Linked DNA regions of Homo sapiens. The protein of the gene in region 1 purifies or fractionates together with the protein of each later gene. This does not show direct contact. Each region holds a gene or a part of one and is shown in the gene's direction. Other genes may lie near its edges.

Evidence for each region.
Region 2: the proteins of ERO1A (region 1) and NUP50 fractionate together in Homo sapiens (co-fractionation; one large-scale study listed by BioGRID). This does not show direct contact.

The regions. Positions count from the first base shown.
Region 1 is NC_000014.9:52,654,045-52,657,697, reverse strand, and holds part of ERO1A (ERO1-like protein alpha isoform 2 precursor), read left to right. Parts: intron 1-3,653. UniProt on the Homo sapiens protein: Oxidoreductase involved in disulfide bond formation in the endoplasmic reticulum. Efficiently reoxidizes P4HB/PDI, the enzyme catalyzing protein disulfide formation, in order to allow P4HB to sustain additional rounds of disulfide formation.
Region 2 is NC_000022.11:45,173,921-45,177,573, forward strand, and holds part of NUP50 (nuclear pore complex protein Nup50), read left to right. Parts: intron 1-1,973; coding exon 1,974-2,160; intron 2,161-2,321; exon of another isoform or gene 2,322-2,462; intron 2,463-3,653. UniProt on the Homo sapiens protein: Component of the nuclear pore complex that has a direct role in nuclear protein import. Actively displaces NLSs from importin-alpha, and facilitates disassembly of the importin-alpha:beta-cargo complex and importin recycling.

The DNA.
Region 1 (3,653 bases):
CAAAATTGTCCATATCACTTTGGAAATATTCTTGTTTTCTTGTGGGAATTTAAATAGTTCCTAACAGCACAGTTTGCTATTTGATAGATATTGTTGTATCAGAACCTTTTTATTTGTGTGCTCGTATCAGGCCTGGAGTTTAAATGGGTAAAAGCCTTTCCTGCTGCTGTTGATGCCTTAATACTGTTGAAAATGAGACTGTGGTTGATTTTCATCAGTACCATATTTCTTCTGGAATTAAAGTATCACACTCTGAGAAACAAAATATAGAAACTTCCATTTTATTCATTGATTGATTGCTTGATTGATTGAGACAGGGTCTCACTCTATTGCCCACTCTAGTGTGCGATGGCCAAAACTGGGGCTTAGCCTGGGAGGGCACTTGGCTTTGCCCAGGAAAAAGTTTGAACCTCTCCTCATGAAGGAGAGCTGTCCCATAGGCAGTGTGCCCAGAGTAGCAGCTTGGAGGCAGTTCTGCAGCCATATTTATAGTCCACTTTTTATTATATGCAAATTATGAGGCAGATTATGCAGAAATTTCTAGGAAAAGGGTAGTAACTTCTGGGTCATTGCTATGGAAAGGGGTGGTAACTTCTGCATGTTGCCATGGGAATGAGAAACTGACATGGCACCCTGGTGGGTGTGCCTCATGGAAAGCTGCTTCAGCCCCCTCCCTGTTTTAGCTAGTTTTCAATTTGGTCCAGTGTCCTGAGTCCCACCTCCTGAGCCAAGTCCTACCTTCTACCTCATGACTACAGGAGCATGCCACCATGTCCAGCTAATTTTTCACAATATTTTTTGTAGAGACAAGATTTGGCCATGTTGCCCAGGCTGGTCTTGAACTCCTGAGCTCAAGTGATTTGCCCATCTTGGCCTCCCAGAGTACTGGGATTATAGCCGTGAGCTACTGTGCCTAGCCGTAACTTTGATTTTAAATGGCGGTTTAAACTCATTAGTAATTTTACTGTTTTTTTTTTTTTTTTTTTGAGACAGAGTCTTGTTCTGTCACCCAGGCTGGAGTGCAGTGGTGTGATCTTGGCTCACTGTGACCTCTGCCTCCTGGGTTCAAGTGATTCTCCTGCCTCAGCCTCCTGAGTAGCTGGGACCACAGGTGCATGCCACCACACCCAGCTAATTTTTTGTATTTTTAGTAGAGACGGGGTTTCACCATGTTGGCCAGGCTGGTCTCGAATTCCTGACCTCAGGTGATCCACCCGCCTTGGCCTCCCAAAGTGCTGGGATTACAGGCTTCAGCCACTGCACCTGGCCTAAACTCATTAGTAATTTTAGATCATCATTTTCAAATTGTGTGTTTAGGTTTTATGAATATGTTTATATTCAGAAGTTTGACTATTATTTTTTTTCATCTTTAAAAAAGGAAATTTTATTATTTTCCATCACATGAATGAACTTGGAGGACATTATATTTGTCAAAATGAGCCAGACACAAAGATTATTATTTCATGATTTCACTTACAAAGGGATTCTAAAAAACTTAATCTTATTGAAGTAGAGAGTAAAGTGGTGGCCACCAGACACCAAGGTATTTAGGAGACAGGAGGGTTTGAAAAGATGTTGATCAAAAAATACATAATTATAGTTAATAGAAGTTCAAGAGATATTTTTGTACAGCGTAGTGACTATAGATCAAAATAATGTATTTGTAGTTTTGAAAAATGCTGACAATGTCACTTGCTCTTGCCACAGAAATGTTAACTATGTGGCGTAATTACCTAGAATTAAGCATTTAACAATGTATATATACTTCCAAACATTATGTTTTACAAAATAAATATACATTTATTGATTACAGATGGTAATGGTATGAAAGCCACTGAAAGGGCAGGCGTTGCTTATGGTCTTATGACTGGCCACTTTGTGAACACAATAAACAAGTTTGCATTAAAAAAACCCAGAAAATGGTTTAATCTAAAAGTTGCCATGATCTTCAGAATTTTTCCAGAGAAAATGACCAAGAAGTTGACTACAGTTAGGTGACTAAGAATATAAGCTGTAGACACCTTCACCCACTAAAAAAAAAAATCACATAAAATAAGAGTGAGAAATTCCTCTGAGTTGTAATATCAATATGGAAAAGAAATATTATTCCAGATTTCAAATCCACAGAGATCATTTTATTATTTTGCAGCCTTTAACATTCACACTTAAAAATAAAAGATTCTACATGGAAACATGTGCTGTAAGTGTATCATAGAACATTAAATTTAAAATTATTCACTTACCATTAACTCTCCTAATACTTTAATTTCTATGATATATTTTCTAGCAAATTAGATAGATGTCACACTTTGTGTAAGAATTTTTTTTTTTTTGAGACAGAGTCTTGCTCTGTCGCCCAGGCTGGAGTGCAGTGGTGCAATCTTGGCTCACTACAACATCTGCCTCCAGGATTCAAGCAATTCTCCTGCCTCAGCCTCCTGAGTAACTGGGATTACAGGCATGTGCCACCACGCCCGGCTGATTTTTGTATTTTTAGTAGAGGTGGGGTTTCACCATGTTGGTAAGGCTGGTCTCAAACTCCTGACCTCGTGATCCACCTGCCTCGGCCTCCCAAAGTGCTGGGATTACAGTTGTGAGCCACCACGCCTGGCCTGTGTAAGAATTTAATAAGATTTTCCTTTTACAAACAGAGAAAAACAATGCTAAGTTACTTAATCCTCTCACCTGTGGACAGGTTTGCCTTTTATCTTAACTGATTTGAAAGTTATATTGATAAGCAAACTCTCTAGTTAAAACCAATTTTTGAATGCATTAAATAAATACCAACTTTCTCATCAAAACCTACAAAGTACCATGTAAAATGACATGGCATGAAGACAACAGTGAGAAAACTGTAGCCATCACATAGAAAAAGAAGGAGAAGGGCTGTGATGAATACACAGTTAGAAGACACATAATAGGACAAACAAAACTAAAGATAACTAGGAAATAAACAGAATTTCTCTTAAAATTCAGCAAGATTTAGCTTTGCAGCATGGAAAAATGTTATCTCCACATGAAGAATCAATCTTATTTCTTCACTATTGATATTTTCCTTCTCTGACTTGAACTTACAAACTAACTGTAGCAGGAATATTTATGGCTTATCATGGAGCATCCGTTACACAGCAAGTACTGTGTGTTTGTTTGCTACATTTATATATAAAAAACATCCTCATGACTTCTGAAGCATCCCTAGTTCTTACCTGAACAAATTGGCTCAATAAACATATAAATTTACTTATGTCAATTATAATGAGAATAAAATAAGTAAAAAAAAATACAGGCTTATGTAGAATTCTTTAATTAAAAGAACAAATGGAATGTCCTAATTAAATGAAATGTAATACACAATTTTGGAAATACATCTAAAAATTGTTTTGTGTGCACTACTATATTTTATAAAAATCATTCTTATTAGTCATGACCAGCTCACATAATACCTCATAAACTATAAAAGAAAAAAATTATAAGAGACAAGAAAATTATAAGTCTAGCATGAGAACCAGGCAAAGAAAAACAGAAAATGTTCATGGGGAGATTCTGAATCATAAGTCAGAAGATTTTACAGTAATGAATTTAATAAAAAGCAGAGTATAGATTTGCTTTCAGCATTTTTGAGGTTTTCAGTTTTCTAGTAAATTTGTCACCTT
Region 2 (3,653 bases), on another chromosome or scaffold:
TAGGACAATTAAATGTCATGTCACCCACCAGAATGCTGAAATGCGGCTTTTCCTAAATAGTGGATTCAGTAGATCTGCTAAGCACTGGAGATGTATTGGTGAGTAAAAAAGACCAAAATCATCTTGCCCTATGGAAGAGAACAAATACATAGTATTAATTTTTCCTCTGTAAGTGCCATGGGGAACAGTAAAACCAATGAGGGAAATTGAGGGATGTGGGGCTGTGTCAGTGCCCATGGAGGAGCCCACATGGGTATTTTCCCTTTTTTTTTTTTTTTTGAGACAGGGTCTTTGTCGCCCAGGGTGGAGTGCGGTGGCACAATCTTGACTCTCTGCAACCGCCGCCTCCTGAGCTGAAGCAATCCTCCTGCCTCAGCCTCCTGAGTAGCTGGGACTACAGGCATGCGCCACCACACCCAGCTAATTTTTGCATTTTTGTAGACAGGGGGTCTCACTCTGTTGCCCAGGGTGGTTTCAAACTCCTGGGCTCAAGTGACCTGAATGTCTCGGCCTCCCAAAGTACTGGTATTATAGGCATGAGCCACCACACCTGGCCCCTTGATGAATATCTTAATCAACTTTTACTCTCATTTTTCTGAATATCTTTTTTTTGTTTAACTTGTGGTTCTTGAATTTTTGTTGTGATTCTAGAGCCAATTTACTATCAGCAATTTCTAAAATCCCTACAAGTGACTTTTAACTTTGTGCAAAATCGGAGGCTCTGAAAAGCCACTTAATGGCTTTATAGTTTGTCCATGAATCATTGTTTTAAAATGACAGCTATCAGTGTGGCGGGTTTGGAATTTTAAATGATGAAAAATCAAATGTAGAGCAACAGAATCTAAGCTCTGTTTATTATGTGCATTAAAACTCATACAAGTTACAATTTTCCATTCTTTGCCTCATTTTATTGCCTTAAATATATCAGTGGTCAGTAAACATCTGAAATTCTGTAGATGAGATTGAAACTTTGGTTTTGGAAAAACATGCAGTAATATTTAGGCTGACTGGCCCATTTAGTAAATGAAGGGGTTCCAGTTTAATTTTTTTTTTTTTCTGGTGAAATCATGGTTATAATTCACTCATGTGGAAACTTAAGATTTGTGAACTGTCTCTTAGATGTTCGGTCTAAGAAGCAGATCACTTCCTATAATGTAATCACTTCTTCGAACAACAACAAAAAAGGGCTTCTAAAAATTGTGGTGAGTTTATTTAGCAAAGCACTATAAACCGAGGAACCTTTCTCCAAAAGTTCCAGGGGCAGAGAGGAGCTTTAGAATTCATACGGAATGCCACACATTTCCAGAGCATCTTAGGTTAGAGATGTGAGCAGGCTAGCACAAAGGGAAAAGGCCTACTAGAAAAACCTTGTTAAAACAATCGAGTTTAAGGAAGCAGTGAGGAAAAGGAGAGTAAGAAGTTGTCCCGGGTTGTTCAGCTAACAGGAACATGTAGATTTGAGACTCGATCATCTAAGTTTTTGTAGGCTGAAAGCAGTTGCAAGCCACAGATGTTAAGAAATTAGGCAAATGGATATTTTTAGTTAACCTACCTTGATGTTTTTATCATTTCTTTAGGCAGTAAATGGTCTTTGACTGAGTAGTACATGAAGTATCTTTCATTTGGGATTTAGTTTTATTGAGCCGCTTCAGTAATTCTGAGGCTGGGTGGTGGGTACATAGGTTTATTGCATTAGTCTTTCTTACCTTTTATGTCCTAAAAATACACATAATATATTTTTTAAATGTCCTTCCTGCCTGTTTCAGGAAAGCAGCTTTGGGTTGCAAAGCTGTTCTTATGAATACAATCTTCCCATCTCATTTCTTATTTCTGCTTGTGCCAGCAGTTTGCCTTATAACGCTGACTGCATGTGGAGTCTAGGTGCTGTTTAGCCAAGATGCTGTTGTCACTCACTTGCTTTTTGGTAATAGAAAGTACACTTACCTAATGTGTGCTCCTCCTTCATACTTCAGTCTGACACTGGAGGAGCCTTTAAAGGTTTTAAAGGTTTGGTGGTACCTTCTGGAGGAGGACGCTTTTCTGGATTTGGTAGTGGCGCTGGAGGGAAGCCTTTGGAAGGACTGTCGAATGGAAACAACATAACCAGTGCCCCTCCCTTCGCCAGTGCAAAGGCAGCGGCAGATCCCAAGGTAGCCTTTGGTAAGTAGCTCCCATCCCCCAGCCGCCTGTGTAAGTATCATCTATGGAAAATAGCTTTACAAAGATGTTTTTCTTATAGCTACCCTGTGTCTTGGAACTGTGTGAGCAAAACCAGGGTGATAATGAAAGAGATGGAACTTAGGGAGGTGTCGGTTACTTACAGAGTAAGTGGGTAGAGCACAGGCTTTTGATCCAAAACATCTCAGCTTTGTTCTCAGCTCTGCTGGCTACCAGTTGTGTGACCCTGGCCTCTAGGCCTCAGAATGTTCAATTTTGAAAGGAGAGTGGCCCTCAGAATTGACCTAGAGTCGAGAGAGAAAAGAAAATGCTATGTAGACCCTTTGTGTGCCAAGGGCTTTCTGTGTGCCTCGCACCAAACTGGCTACTGGGAACTCAGATGCGGTTCTCCGTGGCCAGGGTGCCTCCCACGCTAGGTTTGTTTGGGTATGGGATGTGTTGATTGCCTGATCCTGTTTTGAGGGAGTCAGTCAAAAACTCTTGGAATTAGCAACAGAGAATAGGATCACGGGTTAAAAGCTTGGAAATGATCCTGACTGGTTGGGTTGTATTTAGCTGATTATTCTGAGAGTATATACTGTTTGATTTTAATTTGGCAGAATGTTTAGTGTGATGTAAAATAAGTGTTCTCTGTTAAGTTTTGTTGTTGTTGTTGTTTTTTCTAAGTTGGAGTCTTGCTCTGTCACCAGGATGGAATGCAGTGGCGCGACCTCTGCTCACTGCAGCCTCCGCCTCTGGGTTTAAGCGATTCTCCTGCCTCAGCCTCCCGAGTAGCTGGGACTACAGGCATGCACCACCATGCCCAGCTAATTTTTGTAATTTTAGTAGAGACGGGGTTTCACCATGTTGGCCAGGATGGTCTTGATCTCTTGACCTTGTGATCCACCTGCCTTGGCCTCCCAAAGTGCTGGGATTACATCCGCGAGCCACTGTGCCCGGCCTCTGTTAAGATTTTTAACTACAGCCATCCCCTAGTATCCTGGGGATTGGTTTCAGCACCCCCTTGGATGTTCAAGTCCCATAGTCAGACCAGCATAACTCTTAGATAGGAAAAGTGAGTGTTCGTATCCACTGGTTTCTCATCCCCAGAGTACTGCATTGAGACAGGGTCTCGCTCTGTCACCTAGGCTGGAGTGTATTGGTGTGGTCTTGGCTCACTGCAGCCACAACCTCCCGAGCTCAAGTGATCCTCCCCCATCAGCCTCCCCAGTAGCTGGGATTATAGGTACACACCACCACACTCAGCTAATTTTTACATTTTTTGTAGAGATGGGGTTTTGCCATGTTGCCCAGGCTGGTCTCAAACTCCTGAGCTCAAGCGATTTGCCCACCTCAGCCTCCCAAAGTGTTGGGATTACATGCGTGAGCCACCACACCTGGCTGAGGACTGCATTTCACAGGTGTAGAACCTGCAGGTACAGAGGGGCGACTGTACTTTAATACTGTTCATCCCAACAACCTTGGGGATTAAGTGT